Regions from separate parts of the Homo sapiens genome. Here region 1 is linked to region 2. A link means that fine-mapping ties the variant in region 2 to the expression of a gene that starts in the linked region. Tissue or cell type: lung. Region 2 holds a variant in brackets; the other region holds the start of a gene. All regions are shown on one strand. Distances are between the middles of the regions.

What was found. PIP is the estimated chance that this variant, and not a neighbour inherited with it, causes the effect.
Region 1: GPD1L starts here. The variant in region 2 is fine-mapped to the expression of GPD1L in lung (TOPMed, PIP above 0.99).

What each region holds. Positions count from the first base shown.
Region 1 is chr3:32,105,242-32,107,850 of GRCh38, forward strand. It overlaps GPD1L (glycerol-3-phosphate dehydrogenase 1 like), which reads left to right and starts at 1,379. Exons shown (of 8, transcript NM_015141.4): 1 at 1,379-1,517. The coding sequence starts at 1,471. RefSeq lists silencers at 1,112-1,521, 1,642-1,781.
Region 2 is chr3:32,153,719-32,156,218 of GRCh38, forward strand. All of the region lies in intron 5 of GPD1L (glycerol-3-phosphate dehydrogenase 1 like), which reads left to right. Among named protein-coding and RNA genes, the nearest start is that of GPD1L, 48 kb to the left of the region's middle. The variant T/G (reference allele first, on the strand shown) is at 1,106.

The DNA.
Region 1 (2,609 bases), 48 kb before region 2:
ACTTTAAAAAATTCTGCTCCAGCCTGGGCAACAGAAGGAGACTGTCTCAAAAAATATATGTCAATAAGTAAATATCCTGATGCCTGGATCCCACCATGGGACATTCTGATGTAACTGGCCTGCAATGGTGTCTGGGCATGGGGATTTTTAAAAGCCCCAGTGACTAATATGCAGCAGAGTTTGAGAACCACTGGTTTAAAGGACTTTGTCCTACTCTGACAGCGTCTAGCACAGTGCCTGGCAGAGACTGATGCTCAGAATGAACAAACTAAGATTCTATTTGTCAAGGAGGAGAGCATTGTGTTACTCACAAATGCAAACAAACCACAAGCAAGGGATAAGTCAGGCCCTGGGCAAAGACAATGGTAAAGCAATTCCTGCCAAGTAAGCGTGTGAGGGTGACACCCACTGAATGCAAGCTGTTGTTACCTTTTTCCCTTTATTTTTATGTATTTATTTTTTGTTGAGACAGGGTCTCACTGTCCTTCAGTCTGGAGTGCAGTGGCCCTATCCTGGCTCACTGAAGCCTCGACCTCCTGGGCACATGCAATTCTCCCGCCTCAGCCTCCTGAGTAGCTAGGACTATAGGTGCGTGCCACCATGCTTGGCTAATTTTTTAAATTTTTGTACAGAGGGGTGGGGGGTCCTAATTATGTTGCTCAGGCTGGTCTCGAACTCCTGGGCTCAAGTGATCTTCCTGACTCGGCCTCCAAAAGTGCTGGGATTACAGGTGTGAGCCACTGCACCAGGTCAAGTTTCTATCTTGACTCTAACTAGAAAAGGTGTCATCCTTGAAATGCAGGTACTGTTCAGCCAAATTCCAAAGTCCTCTGAAGATCCAAGTTCTCTAAGAAGTTCAGAGGTGCCAGGCTGTGTCTTGTTTGTGCAAATGAAACAGAGGATGACAAGGTCGGGTGGGCATTTCGAGCTCTGCCCCAAGTCTGGTCGGCTTGAGAGTCAACCTAGGAGCCTCTCTCGGCTCCAAATGGCAATGTGGCAGCCCTTCCCGAGTAGGGAAAAAGGAGCGTGTAGGGGGCACCACGGCAAGCTGGTTGGGTCTGCTCCACCCATGAGGATGGAGTGCAGCCTCCACCGGGAACCAGGGGCGCGAGTCGCTGCTCAGTGGCCTGGGCCTGCATGTGGCGCGGCGGGAGCTGCTGCCTAGGGCCGCGCAGCGACGGGGGGTGAGGACTACATGTCCCGACGTGCCTCGGGCAGGGCGGGGCGGTGCCGGAGCCGGGCCTGGAGGCCGGCCGGGGCCAGGCGTGCGCAGTGGTTCTTGGGAGTGGCGAAGCGGGTCCTGCCCCGCTGTCAGCTGCGGCCCCCGGCGCCGGGCGGGGGTGGCCGCGACCATTGGCGGAGAGGCGAAAGGGGCGGGGCCGCCGCCAGCCGCTGCGGGCAAGGCTGAACAGGCGGAGGTGGGCAGCCGGCCAGGGAAGCACGGTCCAGGCGGCTACATTCGGCCCGGCCATGGCAGCGGCGCCCCTGAAAGTGTGCATCGTGGGCTCGGGGAACTGGTGAGCGGCGGCGGGCTGGAGGCCGGGGCTCCGCTTCCAGGAAGCGCCTCTCCCGGGCGGTGAGGGCTGCGCGCCCCATGCTGCGGCGTGGGCACCGGGCACTGCGCGCAGGGAGGCGGGGTGGGCGACCTCGTTGCTGGGCTGGGCACCGTGCGCCCGAGGAGGCCGCACCGGGGCACTCGCTCGGGAGGCGCTGGGCTCGCGTGCGTGCGGGGGACAGCGCGGAGAGAGGGCACCCCGAGCACGCGGGCACCTGTCTGCGCCCCCGTTACTGAGCGCACAGAAGCCACCTGCTTGCCACGCCTGGGTGTTTTGCACAATATCCTAAGGGCGTATTCCGTTCTCCACGGCGGATCTCCTGGGTCAAGGACTTGGTGGAGGCTCGAGCATTCTTACTGCAGTTTCGGTGTTGAGGAAACCGAGGCGGAGAGGGCTAAAGGGCTCTTGCTGCCCAGGTCACGGGCGGGGCATGCTCTGCCCTTCAAGGTGCCCGTCTCGCCCCCGCTTCTGATAGGTCCACTATCTTAGGCGCGTCGTATCAGGAAGAAAATCCAAGTTTCAACAGGCCGCTCTCCCTGAGGCGTTGAGAATTCTCCCTTGCCGAGATGTTTGCGAAGCTTTGCGTCTCTTTGGGGCCTTATTTGACTTTAACATTTTATAGAGCACATTAGAAATGTCAGTTCTTCTAGTACCCTTAATCAAACGTACACTGTGGGATTCTCTGGTGTGTTTGGGTGAATGTAGAGGTGGGGGTGTGAAGGGGGAAGGAAGCAAAGTGTAGCATCTGGTGTTTCCAAGCCTTTTTTCATTGCTGTACACTCTGCCACATTGGAGGGACTGGTGTACAATAGTTAAGAGTGATGATGTCCTTTCAGTGCTTCTGTTTACCGGTTTTTCTGTGGCGTGACAGGCATCAGAAGTGCTGCAGCAGCTGGTCCTAGGTAGTTGGTCTTAGTTTTACTCTTTCAAGACTTGGCCCAGAAAGTACTTATTGAAGGAAACCTTACCTGGTTCTTCACTTTTCCATCCCAGCAAGGCCAGTGGCCTCTCTCTGTGTCCCTATTGCTGGCCTGCATCACTGCATTATAAGGA
Region 2 (2,500 bases):
GGGAGGCAGTTCTTGCTGGGTGGTGAGAATGTTTATGTAACCTGCAGGTAGCATGGGCTGGTTCTCCTGTTCTTTATTCTTTTTGTGGGAAGGTGGAAGTGGGAGAGGAATTGAGCCCCATCCAACCCACCCCTATTCAGAACTGGAAAGAGTACACTCAAGAGTGGATGATTGCCTCTGAGTATTCCGTCACTCAGGAGATGGGGAAGAGCTACATACGTCTGTTTTCTGAAAATTATGGTATTTTTAGCTCCAAAAGAGTTTAAAGCAGATTTAAATGCACAGTGGATAATGATAACTTTCACATCTGAGCGATCTCGGAGGACATCTGCTCGGATGCTGTTCAAACACGCTCTGACTGGCTCAGTATCTTTATTTTTCTTTTGACAATGGTAAGTGGTGGAGGGAGAGAATGAGGATTTCAAGATCTGTCATAAGGCGACTAAACTGGGTTGCAGCCCAGGGTCCTCTTAGAAGAGAGGAGTTTACCCTGCACTAGGTCTCCTGATCTCCCCTGGTGGGAAGGTTAAATGTCTAGTAAAAGCTTCTAGTAGAAGCTTTGGGGTGGTCTAGACTCCCATGCCCTGCAGTGAAGGGGCCACAGAGGAGCTGTGAGGGAGCACCCAGGCACCCTCATGTGGCTTTTCTGAGTACAGCAACATAGAAACACTGCTTTGGAGCTCAGGGCCTGTCCATACAGTCCTGCTTGGATGGTTCTGGTTGCAGAGAGCTCCTGCTAAATCTTTCCTGTTGGGTGAGGTCAGCTCTTCCTGTTAGAAAGTTCTCATCTGGACTCTGCGGTGGCCTCTCTGTGCCTTTCACTCACTGACCCTAGAGCAGCACGGTGTGGCGTGATCTTCTCGGGCAAGGTCCTTACTCTGTGTGCTTCAGTTTCCTATCATGTTCCCATGATAATAGGACCTGCCCTGTGACAATGTTGTGAGGTTTAAATGAGGTAATAATATATGAAGCTCTTAGAACAGTTCAGTAAGGTTTGCTGTTGCTATTTTTTATTACCTTTTCTTCTCCTAAGCTACTTTTTTTTTTTTGAGACAGGCTCACTCTGTCACCCAGGCTGGAGTGCAGTGGCATGATCTCGGCTCAC[T/G]GCAACCTCCGCCTCCCCAGCTCAAGTGATCCTTCCACCTCAGCCTCCCAAGTAGGTGGGACGAAAGGTGCATGCCACCATGCCCAGCTAATTTTTTGTATTTTTGGTAGAAACAGGGTTTCACTATGTTGCCCAGGCTGGTCTCAAACTCCTGAGCTCAAGCAATCCACCCACCCCAGCCTCCCAAAGTGCTAGGATTATGCCCAACCTAAGCTACCGTTTTTACCTCCCAAGCCTTGGTGTAGGCCAGGGAGGCACTCTCCTTTGACAACCAATTGCAAAGGGTCAGGCAGGTCTTTTTGACCGAGGTTGGAGGAAGGGCAGATTTCCCACACTGGAGCAGCAAGGCACAGGGGACAGAGCGGGCTGCAAAGCCAGGCACCAGGGGCACATCCAGACTCCATCTTTTACCAGTGAGGTGTTCTCAGTGGGCCACTAAACCTCTCTGAGCCTCAGTTGTGCCAGTTGGGAAATAGGAGGATAGGTACATACTTCTGAGTCATGGGAATGATGATGAGGCAGTGTGTAACTAGCCTGGGCTGGCTGAAGGCACGTAATAAATAAGTGCCTCCCCTCCTCTGTTGACAGGAGCCCCTTGTTGAACAGAAGTCCATGTTCTCTCCCATTCAGCCCATAGACATTTCCTGGGGTTGGTTTTTCATATAACAGTTTCAGAATGGTTCATGTTGTGATGGAGGGGGAAATAGGGACACAGTCCAGGGGGCATCAGAGAGCAATTTCAGGAATCTGACCAGTTGGCCAACAGCCTAAGCCTCGCCACATTGCATGGCAACTTCAATAAAACCACTTGGCCAGCTCACCCAAGGGCTGGCCTCTGGGCTTCGGCAGTCAGACCCGCTGCATGTCCCCAGGTGTCAATCTGTTGCCCCAGTACTGGTTGCAGCCCCAGTGCAGGCTACAATTGCACCAACTTTCCTGAAAGAATGTCAATACTAGAAGGGCCTTGAAAAGTCTTGTCCAAGCCCTGAATTTTACATCTGAGGTGAAGATGGCCGGAGAGGTGGAGTGGTTGGCCTAGGTCACACTGTGACAATGTAGAGGCTCTCTGGATGTCAGTGCCGTGTACCGCTTCCGTCTCCTTGTAGCCTCCTTAGTCTGGCTGCTATGCTGGGAAGGGCGTCCAGACCTAGGTGGGCCCAGCCCCAGGTGTTCTTATGGTCCCTGCTCTTAGCCTCTGCATAGCACTCATCCTAAAAGGTCTGGCTGTCCCATCCTGACTCGGCAACTCACCCCTTCTAGAAGCAGAGCTGCAGAACTAGATCGCACCCGACCCCCCAGCATCTCTCCAGGCTCCTTTCACACGGCTTCTGCCTTGCCTCTTCCATGATGCTGCCTGTTGCTGAGAGTGTGTAAGCCGGGAATTACACACTGATG